Linked DNA regions of Homo sapiens. The protein of the gene in region 3 purifies or fractionates together with the protein of the main gene of each other region. This does not show direct contact. Each region holds a gene or a part of one and is shown on either strand. Other genes may lie near its edges.

What was found. The genes of interacting proteins can lie anywhere in the genome.
Region 1: the proteins of TINAG (region 3) and ZNF579 purify together in Homo sapiens (affinity purification with mass spectrometry; 2 studies listed by BioGRID and IntAct, with this or other methods). This does not show direct contact.
Region 2: the proteins of TINAG (region 3) and EPDR1 purify together in Homo sapiens (affinity purification with mass spectrometry; 2 studies listed by BioGRID and IntAct, with this or other methods). This does not show direct contact.

Annotation. Positions count from the first base shown.
Region 1 is NC_000019.10:55,577,849-55,584,674, forward strand, and holds the start of ZNF579 (zinc finger protein 579), read right to left. Parts: upstream 3,001-6,826; 5' UTR 2,947-3,000; intron 2,295-2,946; exon of another isoform or gene 1,794-2,294; 5' UTR 1,792-1,793; coding exon 103-1,791; 3' UTR 1-102. UniProt on the Homo sapiens protein: May be involved in transcriptional regulation.
Region 2 is NC_000007.14:37,944,614-37,951,639, reverse strand, and holds part of EPDR1 (mammalian ependymin-related protein 1 isoform 1 precursor), read right to left. Parts: intron 2,801-7,026; coding exon 2,592-2,800; intron 1,441-2,591; coding exon 1,244-1,440; 3' UTR 1-1,243. UniProt on the Homo sapiens protein: Binds anionic lipids and gangliosides at acidic pH.
Region 3 is NC_000006.12:54,381,436-54,388,461, reverse strand, and holds part of TINAG (tubulointerstitial nephritis antigen), read right to left. Parts: intron 2,555-7,026; coding exon of another isoform or gene 2,507-2,554; exon of another isoform or gene 2,336-2,506; intron 1-2,335. UniProt on the Homo sapiens protein: Mediates adhesion of proximal tubule epithelial cells via integrins alpha3-beta1 and alphaV-beta3. This is a non catalytic peptidase C1 family protein.

The sequences.
Region 1 (6,826 bases), on a different chromosome or scaffold from region 3:
GGGACGGGTGGGTAGACAGAGGAGGTGGCTCCTTCAACTTCCCTCCTCCATTCTGCAAACCGGGGAGCTCAGGCGGAGCGGCGGAGGGCAGGGCGGCGAAGGTCAGGAGGCCAGGCCCCCCAGCCCGCGCAGGTGAGCCTTGCTGTCTACCTCTTCCTCCTCCATCTCGAAGGCTGAGTGGTCTTGGCTGTCGAAACAGGAGGCGCTGAGGAAGACAGGGGGAGCCGGCGGGGACTGGGGTGGGGTCCCCGGAGAGGGCGGCTCTTCCTTAATGTTTGCGAGGGGCAGCGGGAGCCCTTCTTCCTCCTGCTCGGCCTTCAGGGGCGGCGGGGGCGGTGGCGGCGACGTCGGGGCCTGGGCCTGCAGTGCCTGCAGCGCGGCGGCCCTCTCCAGCTCTGCGCGGTGGCAGCGCTGGTGGCGCAGGAGGCTGTAGGCGCGCGAGAAGCGGCGCGGGCAGCGGGGGCACGGGTGCGGGGCTGGGCCCCCCGCGTGCACCTGTGCGTGGCGCGCCAGGTCGGCCAGGCGCTTGAACTCCCGCTGGCAGCGCACGCACTGGAAGGGGCGCGCTCCCGAGTGGGTCACCCCGTGCTGCCGCAGGTGCGCCCGGCGCCTGAAACCTTTGCCGCACTCTGGGCACCAGAAGCGGGGCTCCCCGGCGGGGGGCCGAGCCGGGGCGGCGTCGCCTCCGTTCTGCCCTTCTCCCCCTTCCGAGGCACCCCCGCACTCCGCCCCCTCGCCCCCCTCCGGCCCCTTGGCTGAGTTCCGTGCACCCGAGGCCTTGTCGTCCTTCTTGCCCGCCGCGGGCAGCGGGGCCAGCAGGCTGAGGGGGCCGTGGACGCGGCGGTGCTGGCGGAGGTAGGAGGCGAGGCGGAAGGCCAGGCCGCAGTCTGGGCACACGAAAGGGCGGTCGGTGGAGTGGACCAGCCGGTGGCGCGACAGGGACCAGGGCCTGGCGAAGGCCTTGAGGCAGATGGAGCACTGGTGTCGCTTGGGGCGTGGCGGGGGCCCCCCTTCCCCTTCCTGTTCGCCCTCGGGGCGCAGACACGGGTGCGCCTTGAGCTCGCCCTTGGTGGCGAAGGCTTCGCGGCAGCGCAGACACAGCAGCGTCCAGTCTGCCTGGAGCAGGACCTGTTTCTCCTCCTGCCGCCCGGCCGCCAGCGCCAGCTCGGCCCTCAGCTCTGCTGCCCCGGCCTCGGCCTCCTCCGACTCCGACTCCCGGGGCTCCGCGGCGCTGGTGGGCGCAGCCAGCGTGGAAGGCTCCCCCGCAGGCCACGTCTCAGGCCACGCTGCGACCGCCTCCTCCTCCGTGGCCCCTGCTGCAGCGGTGGTGGGCGGCTCCGAGCCCTCGTCCTGCGGGCCCCAGCTGGGTTCGGCCGTCTCCTTGGCCACCCTCTCGATGGCCAGCTCGACCTCGCCGCCCGCGTGCTCCTGAGCCAGGTGGCGCCTGAGCTGGGCCGGTTCTGGGAAGGTGCGGGGGCAGGCGGCGCAGCGCAGCGGGGGCTGGGGCCCGTGGCCGCGCAGGTGGCGGGAAAGGTGGGCCGGCCGGCGGAAGGCCTTGGGGCACAGCGGGCAGGCGTGGGGCCGGAGCCCCGAGTGGCTCAGCCGGTGCCGGGAGAGGTAGTAGGGGAAACGGAAGAGGCGGCCGCAGGTGGGGCAGGGCAGGGGCGCCCTAGGGGCTCCAGCGCCCCCCCTGCCACGGCCACGGCCCCGACCACGGCCTCGGCCACGGCCCCGGCCTCGGCCACGGTGAGGTGGGCTGCCCTGGGCGGGTGGAGGAGGCTGCGGATCCATGCCTGTGGGGAGAGAGGGGAGAGATGGGAAGCGGGGCAGAGATAAAAAGAGGTGCGTGGGGTGTGGCAGAAAGAGAAGCAGAGACAGTCAGAGATGGAGAGGCAGAGAGGGTCAGGTATTTAGCCAGGAGAGAGATATGAGACAGAGACAAAGATGAGAGACACCGAGGGGAGGCCAGAGATGGAGAGACAGGAGGAGAGAGATCAGAGACAGAGCGACAGAGCAGGGAATAGAGACAGGAGAAGGCAGAGATGGGAGACACAGAGAAGTGGGGATGGACAGACAGAGACCAGGAGTCGCAGAAAGACAGGATGGTGAAAGGCAGAGCAGAGAAGAGACAGAGGAGAGTGAGGAACACCCAGCAGAGAGACAGAGACACAGAGAAGAGGAAACAAAGAGACTTGGAGAACCAGAGGCAGAGATAGTGCAAGAGCAGAGATCAGAAGAGCAGTGGCGGGTTGGGGGCCGGAGAGACAGGGAGACAGAGACACAGAGGGAGTGAACTGGGCAGAGGCACGGAGGGGGACAAAGTCAGCGAACCGCTTCTGCTCCAGGTCCCCCGGCCAGGCTGAACGTTTTGGGAGGGGCTGGGACACAGCCCATGGGGCCTGAGTGGAGGGGGTGGGATTTGAAGCCGGTAGGCCCCGGAAATAGAGTGTGTTCTCAGATGCCAGGGGCTGGGAGAGGTCGGGGAGTAGGAGGGTTCAGACTTCTGGTCTGAGTTGGGAGGGGGCTAGGGGCCCAGACTCTTGGGACTGATGGGGATGGGAGCTGGGGATTGAGACTCCTGGGTCCAGGTCATGACGGATTGGGGAATCTGGACTCTGGTATGGAGGAGGTGTGGATTCCTGGGTCCCGGTGGAGGAGGGGCTGGGGAGGGGGCTGGGCTCCCAGGACAAGGGGGAGGCGGGGGCTGGGGACCCAGCTGCCGGGAATCCCCAGGGAGGAGGCGACTGAGGGCCGGACCCCTGGACTCGGGAGGGAGGCTGGTGGGGGTCGGGGGTCCCAGGTCCTAGAGGGGGGCCGATCTCCTCCGGGCCAAGCCTGCAGCTCCCCGAAGGCATGATCAGCAGAATTGGGGCCGGGTCGAGGCCTTGAGGATTTCTCAGCCCTGGGCCTGGGGCTTGGTCCTGGTCGCTGGGGCTGGGTTCTTACCTCGCCTCCTTGGCTCCTTTCTTCCTTCCCCACGGCCGGCCAAACGCGGACGGTGGTGGCGGGGAGGGAGGGGGGCCTGAGCGTGGTGGGGGGTGGAGGAGGAGGCTGGGCTCGGTGTCACTGCCTAAGCCTTCCCCCCGGAAACCTGGCCTTTCCTCGGAGCCTGAAAGAGGAAAGACTGGCTGGGAAGCCGGAAGCGGGAGGACGGGGGACCTGGAGAGGGGAGGGAAGGCAGCTTGCACTACAGGGTCCTGTGAGGGGAGGGGGCTGGGGGCCTGTCCCCCGGGCTCCCAGAGGGCGGAGGGTGCTGAGGGCCTGGAACACTGGGTCCAGCTACTCCCGGCTCCCCAACATGCACACACACATATTCATTCATTCCTTCAACAAATACACATTTATCAGGTCCTGTCTGTGCCAGGCACTGTGTCAGGCCAGGGGAGTGGCCGGGGGAGGAAGATGAATGAATCAGTGACAGAGGCTTCAGGAAGTACTGGCACTCTGGATCAGAACCTGGCTCCAGCCTTCCCTTGGCTGTCTGGGTGAAGGATTCTCCCACTTCGAGCCTCGGTTTCCCCCTTTGTGAAAGCCCCTGCATATACTCATTCAACCCTAAGCGACCAATATTTACTGAATATCTACTACGGGCCAGCCTGCATATATTTGTCTACATATACGCATATTCACTGGGACCTTAGCAGCCAATGTTTACTGAGCACCTACTATGGGCTGGTGCTGTCCTTGGTGCTGGAGTCACAGTGGCAAAAACCGGAGCTCACTGTCTGATGGGGAAGGCAGATAGATACGGATCAATCACGCTGGAGTGCATGTGGGGGAACGTGTGCTCCGAGGCAGGGAACTGCTATGGGAATGCAGAGAACAGAAGGCACTGAGCTGAGCTCACACTGGGAGGAGGTGATTCCTGAGGTCTTCCTGGAGGCAGCAATGTTTCAGCTGAAATTGGCAGAATGAAACCAACCTGGCGACATCTCAGAAACCTATTCTGGAGCAGAAAAGGCATTTTGCAGGAGTATACCCACAGCTTGACGCTGTTTGTTTAAGGTTACATTCCTGCCAAACAGTGCTAATGAGAGTGCGAGCAAACAGGTCCTTTCATACACGGCTGGGGCAAGTAGAACCTGGAACATTCTTACCGAGCCAGCAATTCCAGGAATTTATTCTTCAGAGGCATCTACTCGGAACTGCACAAAATAATGTCTGCACCAGGTTAATCATTGCAGTACTGCACATCACTGCAAACAGCTGAAACCAATCTAAACACCCATCTGTAGGAGAGCTGAGTAATAAATCATGACTGATCCACCCAGTGGAATACTAGGTGTCCATAGAAAAGAACAAAGAAGCTCACCGTGTGCATATATGGTAAGTCTCCAAGTGATAACCTGTAGAAGAGAAAAATGGAAGGTCAAGTACAGCCTGCAGCCTGTTCTGGGTTTGTGTGTGTTCTGGGATTGTGTCCAGATGAACTGGAACAAGAGAGAAGAAACTGAAACTGGCAACATAGTCTAACTTCCAGGACAGAAATTTACTACACTCTATCCTTGTTTTTTTGTTTGTTTGTTTTTTTTTGTTTTGTTTTGTTTTCTTTTGAGATGAGATCTCCTTCTGTTGCCCAGGCTGGCTGGAGGAAGTGCAGTGGTGTGATCTCGGCTCACTGCAGCCTCGACCTCCCGGGCTCAAGCAATCCTCCCACCTCAGCCTCCTGAGTAGGTGGGGCTACAGGAGTGTGCCACCATGTCTGGCTAATTTTTGTATGTTTTGTAGAGATGGGGTCTCCCTATGTTGCCCAGGCTGGGCTTGAACTCCTGGGCTCAAGCAATCCACCTGCCTCGGCCTCCCAAAGTGCTGGAATTACAGACATTAGCCACTGTGCCCGGCTTTTTGTACTTTTTGAATTCAAAACCGTGTGAATGTGCTATATACTCAAAAAAGTAAAGGAGGCCAAGCATGGTGGCTCACGCCTGTAATCTCAGCACTTTGGGAGGCCCAGGTGGGCAGATCACCTGAGGCCAGGAGTTCAAGACCAGCCTGGCCCACATGGTGAAACCCCATCTCTACAAAAGGTACAAAAATTAGCCAGGCATAATGGCACATGCCTATAATCCCAGCTACTCAGGAGGCTGAGGCAGGAGAATGGCTTGAACCTGGGAGGCAGAGGTTGCAGTGCGCTGAGATCGTGCCATTGCACTCCAGCCTGGGCAACAGAGCAAAACTCCACCTCAAAAAAAAAAAAAAAAAAAAAAAGAAAAGAAAAAAGTAAAGGAAAAAGAAATACATGGGGATTATAAAAATAAATGAAATGAAAAATAATAGCTTACTCTTGTGAGCGTATTACAAATATGATCCCATTTACTCCTTGCTTTATGAAGTAGGTACCATTATTTTTCCCTTTTACAGAGGATGAAAGTGAGATACTAGAAGTTTCCAAACCTAGCGAGTCTCAGTAAGAAGTTTCACTTCACAAACAGATAGGAGAAATGATAGTGGATCAGAAGCATGATTTAAAAGAAATAATAAAAGGCCGGGCGTGGTGGCTCATGCCTGTAATCCCAGCACTTTGGGAGGCCGAGGGAGGCAGATCACTTGAGGTCAGGAGTTCAAGACCAGCCTGGCCAACACGGTGAAACCGTCTCTACTAAAAATACAAAAATTAGCTGGGCATGGTGGTGCGCGCCTGCAATCCCAGCTAGTCCGGAGGCTGAGGCAGGAGAATCGCTTGATCCTGGGAGGCGGAAGTTGCAGTGAGCCGAGATCGTGCCACTGTACTCCAGCCTGCGACAGGGCAAGACTCCGTCTCAAATAAATAAATAAATAAATAAATAAATAAATAAATAAATAAATAAAATAGGAATGGGGTCTCACTCTGTTGCCCAAGCTAGTCTTGAATTCCTGAGCTCAAGCAATCCTTCCACCTCAGCCTCCGAAAGTGCTGGGATTACAGGCATTAACTACCGTGCCCAGACTAGGAGCATGCTTTTTAAAAGCACCTTGTCCATAATACTATATTTTAAAGAATATATACCATGGAATAAAAGTCTAAAAATGTCTGTGGTAATAATAGGCACCAAATTCAAGATATAAGTTATGTTTGAGATAGGAGAGGCAATCAGATCTTGGAGGGGGTGGTCCGCGGGGAGTCATTTGTATCCCTAATATTTCAAAGCTGGTAGTCAGAATATGGGTGTGTGTATTTTAACATGTTTTTTGTAAAATACACTTAAACTTTATAATTGTAACCATTTTAAATCACACAGCTCAATGGCACTAAGTAAATGTTGCACAACTATCCACGCTGTCTAGTTCCAGAACTCTTTTTTTTTTTTTTTTTTTGAGACAGAGTTACACTCTTGTTGCCTAAGCTGGAGTGCAATGGCGTGATCTCGGCTCACCGCAATCTCCGCCTCCTGGGTTCAAGCGATTCTCCTGCCTCAGTCTCCCAAATAGTTGGGATTACAGGCATGTGCCACCATGCCCAGCTTATTTTGTATTTTTAGTAGAGACAGGGTTTCTCCATGTTGGTCAGGCTGGTCTCAAACTCCCGACCTCAGGTGATCCACCTGCCTTGGCCTCCCAAAGTGCTGGGATTACAGGCGTGAGTCTCTTTCTTTCTTTCTTTCTTTCTTTTTGTAGATATGGGGTTTTGCTTTGTTCCCTAGCCTCATCTGAACTCCTGGTCTCAAGCCATCCTCCCACCTGAGCCTCCTAAAGTGCTAGGATTACAGGCGTATGCCACCATGTCCAGCCTAGTTCCAGAACCTTTTCATCAGCCCAAACAAACCCTAAGCCCATTAGCAGTCATTCCCACACTCCCTTCTATCCCCAGCCCCTGTCAACTAATAATCAGTTTTCTGTCTCTATGAAT
Region 2 (7,026 bases), on a different chromosome or scaffold from region 3:
ACATTCAACACATAAGGAAACCAGGGACAAGAGAGGCTGGCATTCTTCACTCTACGAATACTTAGGGCACTGACTATGTGCCAGGCACTTGCTTTGTGCTAGGGATATAAAAGTAAACATACAAGGTACCCGTACCCAAGGAGCTCACAGCCAAGATAATGGATGAGTGTCCTGAAAGCAGAAATTATCACACAGCTTAATAATTATTGTGAGAAATGCATGCTCAAGATGCAAGGTGCAACTCATCCAGGCTTGGGAGCAACTCTTGTGAATGAGCTGACCTGGAAGGAGATGCAGAAGTCAGACAGAGAGGTTATGAAGCAGTGTTCTAGGAAGGCCAAAGTGCGGGCAAGCCCAGTGCATTTAATGACCAAAGGAGTGACAGTACGAGGGAACTCTAGTCCTGGGTTTAGGAGACAATAGTCTCCTGACTCCCTGTTCAGTGCTATTTTAGAATACTGCCTGTGTATTGACAAGTCTGTGAAGATTCAGCACATACATCAATACTCTTGCATAGAAAAAAAAGAAGCTTACATGGCTCGTGCTATGCCAGTGTAGACATTAGGATTCTCTAAACTGCCTTGCTCAAAATGTTTCTTTAGAGGAATAATTACTTCCTATTTTAGCTTTTCATTTCCTTCTAAATGTTTATATCAATTGGGCCATGCCATAAAATTCTTAAGTCTGGAAGGGATTTAAGTTATCATTTTTTTGGCAACCAAGGGAGTGCAGGGACAGGGTGGAGTAGGGCTCAGTGGGAGCAATGCCAACCCTGGTGCAGCAATAAAGGGGGCATTCTCTGCAGGGAATTTAAGAATTAATAATAAAATTGACCAAAATCACTCTGCTTTTTATTATCACTAATTCTGAATAATGTCAACAATAAATACTTGCTGCCAAGGCAAACTTCTCTTACTGACCCTTCCCTATGTGCATGGCACTGCATTATGTGTATACCCGTGCATGCAGAAAACCAGCCCTGAACAGGCATTAGAAATACCCAAAGTGTCCATATTAGCCATCTAGTCAGTTCATATGGCCACACCCTCGCCATTCAATTTTCTTCTGTAAACAGAGCTTGAGTAGTCAAAATCAGACACATCAAAACCCCACATCAATGTGCATCTTCCTAAAATTATATTTCTCTCCAATTAGCATTCACATCTTGACTAGTCTCATATCCATCTCCAGCTGGGGCCGCAGGGGGCTGACATCCGATGCTGCCGCTTCCCTATGCACAGGCTCACCAGGAGCAGTCTTCGCTCATCTTCTCCAGTTGGGCCATCTGGCACGTGCTTGGAGGGGTAAACACCGAGGGGTCTTTAATACCCAGCTGGATGTCAAAAAACCGCGTAGACAATATCACACTGTAGTTTATGGTAAAGGTTTCCTGGACAGGATAGCAATCCTTGACTGTATAGATGCCAATCCAGGTTTCATCTATAAGAGGAAAAAAGTTGACTTTTAAATAAAGAAGACAGGCAAGAAGTTCATATTTTTTCTTATGGTGGTAAAATGTACATAACATAAAATTTACCATTTTACCATTTTTAAGTGTTTGGTGGCCTTGAGTACATTCACATTTGTTGACCATCAGCACCATCCATCTCCAGAACTTTTTTCATCTTCCCAAACTGAAACTCTGTCTCCATTAAACACGAACTTCCCATTCCTCCTCTCCCAGCTCCTGGAACTCATCATTCGATTTTCTGTCTCTATGAATTTGACGACTCTACATACCTCATGTAAGTGGGATTGTACTGTATTTGTCATTTTCTGCCTGCATTGTTTCTCTTAACATTATGTCCTCAAGGTTTACTCAGGCTGTAGCATGTGCTGGTGTTTCCTTCCTTTTTAAGGCTGAATAATATTCTGTTGTATGACTATACCAGATTTTGTTTATCCATTTATCTGTTGATGAACATTTGGGTTTCCACCTTTTGGCAATTGTGAATAATGCTGCTGTGGACATGGGTGTACAAATATCTGTTTGAGTCTCTGCGTTCAATTCTTTGGGGCATATATATATATACAGAAGTGGAGTTGCTGGGTCATATGGCAGTCTTATCTTTAATTTTTTGAGAAATCACCATACTGTGTTCCACAGCATGAATGCCTGTGTGGTAAAAACTGTCTTGGGATAGGCGTATATCAGCAGCAGGGCAGAGAATGGCTTCACATAAAAGTAGGCTGGTTTGCACACTCAGCATGATGGGAGTAGATTTGACCCCTGCAACTTTAGGAAGTGGGGGAAAGAAAAGGAGGCACCCAATTCAAATGTGTGCCTTAGACAGATGCCTTCCATGTCACAGACCTCGGGACGACCATAAAATGTCAAAATCAAGGCTAAGTTCACAGGAGCCAAAGTGGCAGAGAGGTGCAGGTGGCACTAGAAGGCTGAGGTGTTTCAAATATGAAGCTTAGATCCCGTTGCCACATAGTGAGCAAAGTAACCTGCAGACCTAAGTGGAGGCTTTAAAAAATTTTTGATTAAGCGGATGTTTCCCTAAAAACTACCTTCCTTAAAGGACTTAAACCTTTTTCCCCATCATGCATGCTGAATACAATGCTTAGATTCTTTGAACCCTTACAGGATCTAGCTGACTTTCTGTCCGACCACTCCTGGACGGTGATCTGCTCCTGAGGCCCCCCGATGGAGTACTGGTCTTCAAAGGTGGAGTTTTGAGGAATGTCAAGAGGATCCCAGGGCTGTGTCAGGGTCATCTTTGAGCACTGCTTGGTGGCTTGGTCAATCTGAAACATCACTCCATCCTTATACAGCAAAATATATTCAAATAATCTGAAACACAGATGGAAAGAAGTAGTTTGGGACTTCATGTTACCATCCTCGTGCCTTTTAACAGCACAAACACCTTTGATAGATATTACTTTTAAAATAGAAAGAAATTACTAGCTAGGCAATCACTTAACGTTTATAAACACTAGGCACATGAAACAACCTGCATATGAAATAATTAGAATTCACAGGTCAGACCGAGCATGATGGCTCATCCCTGTAATCCCAGCACTTTGGGAGGCCGAGGATGGAGTACGTTTTGAGCCCAGGAGTTTGAGACCGGCCTGGGCAACATAGTGAGACCCCTGTCTCTAGAAAAAAAATTTTAAAAATTAGCCAGACATGGCAGTGCACAGCTGTAGTCCCAGCTACTTGGGAGGTTGAAGTAAGAGGATCACTTGAGCCTGGGAGTTCAAAGCTTCAGTGAGCCATGATCATGCCACCGCACTACATACAGCCTGGGTGAGATCCCGTCCACCATCAAAAAAAAAAAAAAAAAATTGAGGTCAAAAGTGTATATTCACTGGGCAAATTTTGACCAAGGACCTAGTATATGCCAGACCCTGTGCTTAGCATACAAACATGGGGAAGATATGGCTCCGGCTGAAGAGCTGGTTTGTGAACTTTTGTTTACCCACAGAGACACAGGAGGACTTGACTCTTGTGTGGTGCATTTTCTCTCACAGCACTCAGTCAAGGAATTATGGGGGTATACTGAACATAGGACAAGAACACACTGAGGACTGGATGGACCGAGTGCCTGTGCTTCACTGCCTCCACTGCCGAGCAGTCATGAGTAAGGGGCTTTGATGCGCATAGCTGATCCGGCACGGGCGCAGCCCACATACCCTGCAGTGGCTGAGATGAGAGCAAAGACAAAAGCTGAGGCGACCCCAGAGCAAATGACTCCCTTAGCTGAGTTTCTCTCCATGCTCTCAGCCTCCTCCCGTGACCACCTGCTCACCCTTCCTGGGGAGTGACAGGGAGATATTCAGAGGCTGAGCCCAGGAGTCACCAGCCATGCAGTATTGGCATCAGTCCTGTATCTTCCTTAAAGCTGAGACATCTTGGTGTTGGGGGAAGCCTGCTGTGTTTCTATGCATTTCACTGTCAATCTAAAACTCAGGCCACAGCTGCTGGTCAAGAAAATGTGTCTTGCAGCCATGACCTCAGAAAGTGAAATCTGCAACACTTGAGGGCTGAAGAGCCTAGAGAAGTGACTTGTCATCAGCAAATAAAAATAGCCAACAAATTATCTGTGGCTTATGAGACCCAATGCACTAGAGGAGACTTCAGGGAAGACATTTGCTCTCCAGCCCAAGCCCGAGCTTAAAAACTATTTTCTTCGGAAAAAAATGTTAGAAATGGTTACTGTCTTTATAGTCAAAACACAGTCGTGCGTCACTTCATGATAGGCTTATGTTCTGAGAAATGTGTCATTAGGCTATTTCATCACTGCACGAACATCATAGAGTGCAGTTACACAAATCTGGATGGTACAGCCTACTACACAACAGGGCTACACAGTATGGCCTACTGCTCCCAGGGTACAAACCTGTACTGCATGTGACTGCACTAAATACTGGAGGCAACTGTAACACAATGGTAAGCATTTATGTATCTAAACATAGAAAAGGTGCAGTAAAAATATGGGATAAAATATAAAAAATGGTACGCATGTATAGGGTACTTGCCATGAATGGAGCCTGCAGGACTCGAAGTTGCTCTGGGTAGGTGAGTGAGTGAGTGAGTGGTGACAGAATGTGAAGGCCTAGGACATTTCTATACACTTCTGTAGGCTTTATAAACATTGTACACTTAGGCTACACTAAATTTATAAAAACTATGTTCCTTTCTTCAATAATACATTAATTTTAGCTTCCTGTAACTTTTTAACTTTATATACATTTTGATTTTTTAAACTTTTTGACTCTTTTGTAGTAAGACAGCTTAAAACACAAATTGCACAGCTATACAAAAATATTTTCTTTATGTCCTTATTTGATATGCTTTTTTCTATTTTAAAATTTATTTTATTAAAAAAAAAACTTTGTGTTAAAAATTACAACACAAACACAGATATTAGCCAGGCCTACACAAGGTTAGGATCATAAGTATCACCCTCTTTCACTCCCACATCTTGTCCCACTGGAAGGCTGTCAGGGCCAGTAACATGCATGGAGCTGTCACCTCCTATAATAACAATGTTTTCTTCTGGATACCTCCTGAAGGACCTGCCTGAGGCAGTTTCACAGTTACCTTTTATGTAAGTGGGAGCACACTCTAAAATAACGATAAAAGTATAATATAGTAATTACATACATGTGGCCAACAAACATAGGAAAAAAAGCCCAACATCACTGATCATTAGAAAAATGCACATCAAAAACACAAAAAGACACCATCTCATGCCAGTCAGAATGGCTATTAATAAAAAGTCAGAAAACAACAGATGCTGGCGAGGTTGTGGAGAAAAAGGAACACTTTTACACTGTTGATGGGAGTATAAATTAGTTCAACCATTGTGGAAGACAGCGTGGCAATTCCTCAAAGACCTAGAACCAGAAATACCATCAACCCACCAATCCCATTACTGTGTATATACCCCAAGGAATATAAATCATTCTATTCTAAAGATACATGCATACCTGTGTTCATTGCAGCACTATTCACAATAGCAAAGACGTGGAATCAACCTAAATGCCATCAATGATAGACTGAAAATGTGGATAAAGAAAATGGGGTACATATACACAATGGAATACTATGCAGCCATAAAAAGGAACAAGATCATGTCCTTTGCAGGGACATGGATGGAGTTGGAAGCCATTATCCTCAGCAAATTAACACAGAAACGGAAAAGCAAATACTGCATGTTCTCACTTATAAGCGGGAGCTGAATGATGAGAACAAATGGACGCGTCGGGGAAGCAACACACACTGGGGCCTGTTGGTGGAGCTTGGGGGAGGGGGAGCATCAGTAAGAATAGCTAATGGATGCTGGGCTTAATACCTAGGTGATGGGATGATCCGTGCAGCAAGATACCATGGCACACGTTCACTTGTGTAACAAATCTGCACATCCTGCACATGTACCCCTGACTTAGAATAAAAGTTGAAGAAAAAAAAGTATAATACAGTAATTACTTATATGCTAGAATTGTGTACAACTGACAGCACAGTAAGTTTGTTTACACCACCACCACCCCAGACATGTGAGTAATGCACTGCGCTACCACATACTATGGCTATGAGGTCACTAGGCAATGGAAGTTTTTCAGCTCCATTGTAATCTCATGGGACCACCACTTCATTGACTGAAACGTCATTATGAAGCACATCATTGTATTATTAGTAGCCGTATGCTTCAGGTTTCTATGAGGTAGTATGGAAATATAAACATGACATCATTTTACACCTTTATGTGTATCTTGTTTATTTCAGAAAAGATTTGAAACGGCTTACAAGGGTAAAAATAACCCAGACACATACCTTTAGAAATGAGAATGAATATAGAAAGAAATATAAGTGTGCATTTTATGAGATATTGCTCAAAAATGGAGCTAATTTTTTATAATATGCATGCAGGGTCAACGTAAAACTGTTAGCCCTTTGAAAAAGTTTGGGTTTGGATTGTCACTGTTTTCTCATAACCAGCTAAATCTCTGACACAATAGAGCCTAAGCACTGATTGAAGAAACACAGCAACATTAACCCAACTCTTAGAGCATTGTTCATTTGTAAATATGGGAATTGTTGTCCATACACAAATCCTGTCCTGTGATACTTTTAATGACCCGTGGGCCACCCAAAAAACAAGTTGTCTTCATTGTTCTCCTCACCACCAGCAATATCTTGTGCTTTCCCCAGTGCTAGATATCTGGGCTAGAAAGGCATTCCTAGCTTTTGCTGATATCCCTGTTGTGTGCTTCTCAGACTGCAATAGTTGTTCCCTGGAGAATATGTAGCCATGTGCAGGAGAGGGGGTTTCCTTCTTGAAATCATCGCCATCACTCCCCAAATCCACAGGATCACAGAAGTGTCATTAATATGGTTTGGCTGTGTCCCCACCTAAATCTCATCTTGAATTGTAGCTCCCATAATTCTCATGTGTCATGGGAGGGACCTGGGGGGAGGTAATTGAATAATGGGCACGGTTCTTTCCCATGCTTTTCTTCTGGTAGTGAATAAGTCTCACAAGGTCTGATGGTTTTATAAATGGGAATTCC
Region 3 (7,026 bases):
TGCCATGACATCAACTTTAAGAAATAGCCAATTTTTATCAGCATTTCTTTTTAAGATTTGGCTGTTTGCCTCCTTAATCAACCCTGATACTTTAAAGGAGCACTCTCAAAACTATGTTTAAAATTGTAAGTTCAATTTATCATTTCAAAGATGAAATGGACTTTGAATAGCTGAGAAGGAAACAGCGTCAATGTGTGTGAGAGTTCTAGCACCAGTGAAATACACTAAATGTCAATTTTCATATTTTTTTAGTCAGTTCATATATCTGTATCTATATATCAAATAAAATTAGTCACAACCTAACAAATGGCTAGGAATAGTAATATTTGTAAATTCTTGCAAATATGATATATAACACTGAGCCTATTCTCATTTGGATGGCTGAAGATTATTACTATCCAAAATTTCATAATTACATTCTTGGTAAATATGGGAAAGGTATATAAAGATTGTATAAGCAAATGTGCATTTATGTGCTAATGAGAGCTAATCATATGTTTGCAAGAAAGGCCACATAATTATAAAGAGTAAGACACTGTAAAAATTAGTGCTAATAAAATACACCTCAGGACATGTATTTTGTTTATTAATCTTATTCTTCCTACTCTCATTTCTTCTATTTCAGCATTTATTTTGTTTGTTTCTTCCAAATGCCTACATTTGTTTGTATTTAATTATAAAGGAAATGGTGGCAATGAAGGGGAGAAAATTTCTAAAGATTTAACTTTTCATCTTTTGTATTGAGATATATGATACAGTCACATAGATAAAGTGTATTAATCTTAAGTATACAACTTAGTAAATTTATACATGTGTTTATGAAGTTTATGTTCATGTAATCTCCACTTAGATTAAGCTATTAACCACTTATAGCACCCCAGAAGGTCTACCATGTTGCCTTCCTGTCCATCCACCCTCCACTCCCCATCAGGTTTTCCTATAATTGATCTTTACAAAAATGGAATAATGCAAAATATATTGAGGTTGACTTTTTTTTAGCTCAAAATAATGTTTCTGGGATTCATCTATGTTTGGCATATGTAAGCAATTAATTCATCTTATTACTATTTATTTTCATTGTGTGACTATACCACAGTTTATCCATTCTCCTGGTGATAAACATGATGAACATAAGTAGCGGCTCCATTTACACATGCATCAGTAGTATAAGATTCTATTTACTCCAAATCCTCATCTATGCTGGATATTATCAATCCTTTTAATTTTAGCTAATCTAGTGTATATGAAGTGATATTTCATTGTGGTCTTAATTTGCATTTCCTTGATAATTAGTAACATTGACCATCTTTTCACATGGCTATTTAGGCCATTTGGATTTCCCCTTTTCTTGAAGTTTCTGTTTAAGAGTTCTATTTTATTGAGTTATCTTGGTCTTCCTATATATTTGTAAGAATGTCTATTTATTGTATATGTGAGGACTTGTCAGATACCTTTCCAGATAGATAGATAGATACATTTTTCTCATTCTGTGGCTTACTTTTTCTTATAATACTGTCTTTTAAATAGTTGTTCTTATTTTAATGTAGTCTGATAATTTATTCTTAAAAAGTTTATTTTGTGCCCGATTTAAGAAAGCATTTTCTAATAGATATCACAAACATATTTGCCTATGTTTTCTTCGAGAAACTTTATTATTTTGCAATTACATGGTCTCTGCTCCATCTCAAATTGTTTTTGTCTGTATTTAGTGAGGAAGTGATCTAGGTTTTTTTTTTTCATATGTATATAAAGTTTCTGTGACCTATGTATTGGCAAACCATGGCTCGTGGACCAAATGTGGCTCAAGAAGCCCCTTAAAAGAGGATTTAGAAGTCAGAAATTTTGTTTTTCCTAATGGTCTTGAAGATGTAAGGTACTCTGTTGAGAGAGGATCTGTAAAACTCTGTGTGAGGGAGCCACATGGAAGGAACTTCAGGCATCCTCTAAGATCTGAGAATATCCTCAGTCAGCAAGAAAATGGGGGCTTGGACCCACAACCAAAAAAACACGTCTACCAACAACCACGTGAGCTTGGAAGAGGGCTGTAAGCTCCAGAAAGGAACACAACTCAGACAACACTTTGATGGCATCCTTGTGAGATCATGAGCAGAGGATCCAGCTCGGTACACTGGATTTCTGACCCACAGAAACACTGCGATAATAAATGTATGTTGTTTCAATCTGCTAAATCTGTGATAGTTTGTTACACAACAGTAGAACAGTAAGTGCTGAATTTTATTAATGCATTTTCTGCACCAATTAAGATATTCAAGCCGGGTTCACTGGCTCACGCCTGTAATTCCAGCACTTTGGGAGGCCAAGGTGGGCAGATCACCTGAAGTCAGGAGTTTGAGACCAGCCTGGGCGACATGGCGAAACCCGTCTCTACCAAAAATACGAATATTAGCCAGGTGTGGTGGCGGGTGTCTGTATTCCCAGCTACTCGGGAGACTGAGGTAGGGAGAACTGCTTGAACCTGGGAGGTAGAGGATGCAGTTAGCCAAGATCACGACACTGCACTCCAGCCTGGACGACAGAGTGAGTGAGACTCCGTCTGAAAAAAAAAAAAAAAAAAAAAAAAATCATGTTTTTTTTTCTCCTTGACTCTTATAATTTGATGAACTATATTGATTGATTTTAGTACTTGAAACCAACCTTGCATTCCTAACATAAGTTTCACTTATGGAGTGTTATCCCTTTATATATTTCTTAATTGTAATATTTTGTTTGGAATTTTATGCTCATGAGAGATATCGGCCTATATTTTTTCTTTTTTGTATTGTCTTATCAAGTTTTGGTATTGGTGTTACCGCTTCATAAAATGAGTTTGGAAGTAACTGTTCCTTATTTCCTATTCCCTGAAAGGATTTGTTGTAAAATTCGTTTCATTTATTCCTTAAATGTTTGGAAAATTCACCAGTGAAGTCTTTTGAGCCTGAATTCCTCTGTGAAAGTAATTTAAATAGACTCATTTTTTTTTTCAAATTGTTCCATAACTATTTATGCTATTTTCATCCTGTGTAGGTTTTTGATAAGTTTTGTTTTCTGATAAATTTATCCATTTCATCTATATTTTCAATTATACTGGCATAACTTTTTAATAATATCCTCTTATTACCTACTTCATATCTATTGAATCTGCAGCAATGTTCTCTTTTTTCATTTCTATGGCAATTTGTCTCTCCTTGTTTCTTTTTCAGTCTTCCTAGACATTTAATCATTTTTTGCAAAGCATCAACTCTTTGCTTTTTTGATTTTCATCTATTATAATATGTCTGTTTTCTTTTACTTTTTTTTGCTTTTCTGTTTATTATTTCTTTCATTTATCTTCGGTTTAAATTTTTCAGCTTATTGAATTATTCTTTTCAACCTTTTAAAAATACATGAATCAATTTTAACCTTTCTTCTTTTCCAATGCATGCATTTTCTATTACATTCAGTAGTGCTTTAGCTAAATAACAAAAGTTTCATCATGGTATATTCTGTACAATTTCAATTTTTTAAATTTATTGAACATGCCCTATGGACCAGCATGTGGTCAATATTGGCAAATATTTCATGTGCACTTAAAGAGAATGTATATTCATCAATATTTATGTGTAATATCCTATGAATTTCAATGACATAAAGCTGGCTAATAGTTTTTTTCAATCTTTCATACATTTACTTATTTTTAGCTGCTATTTCTATGAGATACTGAGATATGTTTAAATATTTGCCTACTTTTTTTCTGTAACTTTTGGTGTATGTTTTTTTGGAATTGTGTTATTTCAGCTTTTGTCCAAACGTGCTTTAATTTTGTATTTATTTTGGAGAAAAATGTCACCATGTATAAAATTCCATGTTGGCACGTTATCTTCATCATTATCAATATTATTATTTTATCCAGCATTTTAGCAATGTCATTTTGCAGTCTTCTACTTTCCTTTTTTATTGTTGTTGTTGAAATGCCAGCTGTCAGTCAGTGCTGCTTTTTTTGAGAATAATGTGTCATTTTAAATAGTGACTTTTTAAATTTCTATTTTTTATCTTCAGCTGTTTGATCGTGAAAAGTTTGAGTGTGATTTTCTTGCAATGTTTGCATTCATGAATTCAGGAACTCATTTTTTATTATAATTTAAGTTCTGGGGTACATGTGCAGAACATGCAGGTTTGTTACATAGGTATACACATGCCACGGTGGTTTTCTGCACCCATCAACTCATCATCTACATTAGGTATTTCTCCTAATGCTATCCCTCTCCTAGCCCCCCACCCGTGAACAGGCCCCAGTGTGTGATGTTCCCCTCCCTGTGTCCATGTGTTCTCATTGTTCAACTCTCACTTACGAGTGAGAACATGTAGTGTTTGGTTTTCTGTTCCTGTGTTAGTTTGCTGAGAATGATGGTTTCCAGCTTCATCCATGTCCCTGCAAAGTACATAAACTCATCCTTTTTTATTGATGCGTAGTATTCTATGGTGTATATGTGCCACATTTTCTTTATCCAGTCTATCATTGATGGGGATATGGGTTGGTTCCAAGTTTTTGCTATTGTGAACAGTGCTGCAATAAACATGTGTGTGCATGTGTCTTTATAATGGAATGATTTATAATCTTTTGGGTATATACCCAGTAATGAGATTGCTGGGTCAAATGGTATTTCTGGTTCTAGATTCTTGAGGAATTGCCACACTCTTCCACAATGGTTGAACTAATTATAGATTGAAATTCTCCATCTTTTCATCTAGATTTTTCTTAATTTTTTAAAATAATGGTTATTTTAAAGCCTACATCTAAAGTATCATCTATTGCTTCTATTGATAGTATTTTTCCCTTGGTTGCTGGTCACATCTTTCTGCTTCACTTGTCTCATAATTTAACTCAAACAAACCATAGCATGCCTATTACAAACCCAGTCCTCACTTTATGCCCAAACCTACCAAATGCTCCTAGGCCAAAAATTTTTCTCCAGATTTAGCACTCTCATTTTTTTAAAAACACAATTTTGGAAAAATTCTGCTATTTTCTACTTATTTAGTAGAATTTATGGCTTGCTGCTATGTATTACATTTTACTCAGTAGTGAAAGACTTTCAATATTTTTATTATAAAAATAGGTTTATATCATAGGACTATTTGTAAATGCTTTGAAACATCCATATATAATTGTGCAGAAATAAAACTTTCCTAGATTTCTCAGTGCTCTTGAATAAAGTTTTTGCTTTCCTGACCCACAAAACATTGTATATAATATAAAGATAGGGAATGTTTTCTTTCACTTCTCCCAAAAATATTCTACTCTTCGCATACCTTGACAATTAGATATGTAGCCATTCATCTAGTTTAATGATCTGATCTGAAGGGATAACAAAACTTCTCTTATCTCCTCTAGAGGCTCAAAGAGAGCAGAGACAAGGTCCTAAATTAAGCTTTAAGGTGTCAGAAGTGTGGGGACATTATATCCTTTGGTATTTACATCTCAAAAGAAATGCAGCCCATCATCTGGAGACTTTATTTGCTGTCTAGCTGGACCTTGGAAAGATATGTTTATATTCCTAATGTTTATGGTGAGAAGATAGGTTCCTCTTCAACTCATCATAATGGAATGAAAGATTTTTCCTTCCTTTTGGGAAAGGAGGAATCTGCTTGTCTCTCTCCTGTAAACAAATGGAGAAAATCTATTGTTCTTTGTCCATCATTTATGAGACATACACTGCTACCTGTGTAGACAAATTTTATTGGTTCTTATCACATCACTGTAAGACTAAGGTGTGGGAGATGCATGCTGCTATGTTACTCTGGTTGTCGATCTATTTATGAGTATCTGTTAAGAACTCCTTACTTCTGACCCAGGTGTTGTATCTCTAGTTAGGTCTATATCTATACCAATATCTATATCATCTATATCTGTGGGATAATATCTCAGACCTTTCACAATTCTTCACAAAACAGTACAACAGTACTTAAAGTTTCATATTTTAATTAAACCACTAGTATGTTTTATAAAAAATAAAATTATTTTAATTACTTGATTAGTTTTTCCTGAATGCATAGACTAAAATTATTCATTTGCTCATTCAATGAGTATTGTTTATATTCTCACTATGTACCAATCAAAATACTTTACCCTTGAGATACATTGGTAAATAAGTCAAATATGATCCTGACTCATGAGGAGAACACAGTTCAGTAGAGAAAAAAGCCTCAATTAATGTGCAAAATATTATAAATTTTAGTCTGATTCTTGTATTTCTACTGCTTGCATTCAACAATTTATCAAACAAATCATAGCAGAAAGAAATCTTACCCCTAGCCTCATGAAATAAAATTTTCTTTGAAGATGTTTGATAAGTAGTAAGTTCAGAATCGATAGTAAGTACAACAATGTAGTTAAAAGGGATAGTGTGCATGTATGTGTTAAATATATGAAAATGAGTGAGTAGATAATCATACTCAGCGTATGTGTATGTGTGTGTGTGTACACATATACACTACCTAGAGGTAGGGATCTAGGGTGGGAATGATCAGGTTGAGGATGAAAGGATCACAAAACATTTTCCTCTGCACATTCGTTCATATTCACTCAGCAAATGGCCATCAAGTGCTATATGCTAAGAACTGTTGTGAGTTAAATACATTAATCAAAGAACTTGATTTTTTCTCTAAATATTACATCGTTATGAGATTAAAAAACTGTTCAAATTTATTTAATAAAAATCCTATGCAGAAACTTAATAGTAGGTATTCAAATAACATATCCTAGTTTATAACTTATTTATTTTAACTATTGGACATTAATGTTGATTGTTGGCTACTAATTATTTTATTTTAATGAGAAAAATTATATTTTTAAAAGCACAGTTTAAATATAAAGAAGAATCCTTCTACTTAAAAGCATCATACCTCCATGTATCAACAACACAAATATAAGGTACGAACACATAATTGGGTGATTGAATTCTGTGAGTGCCTTATGAAGAAATATACCAAGAGTCATTCTGATGAGTACAAGTTCTAGCACCTAGTGCTTTGTAAGCCAAAATATGC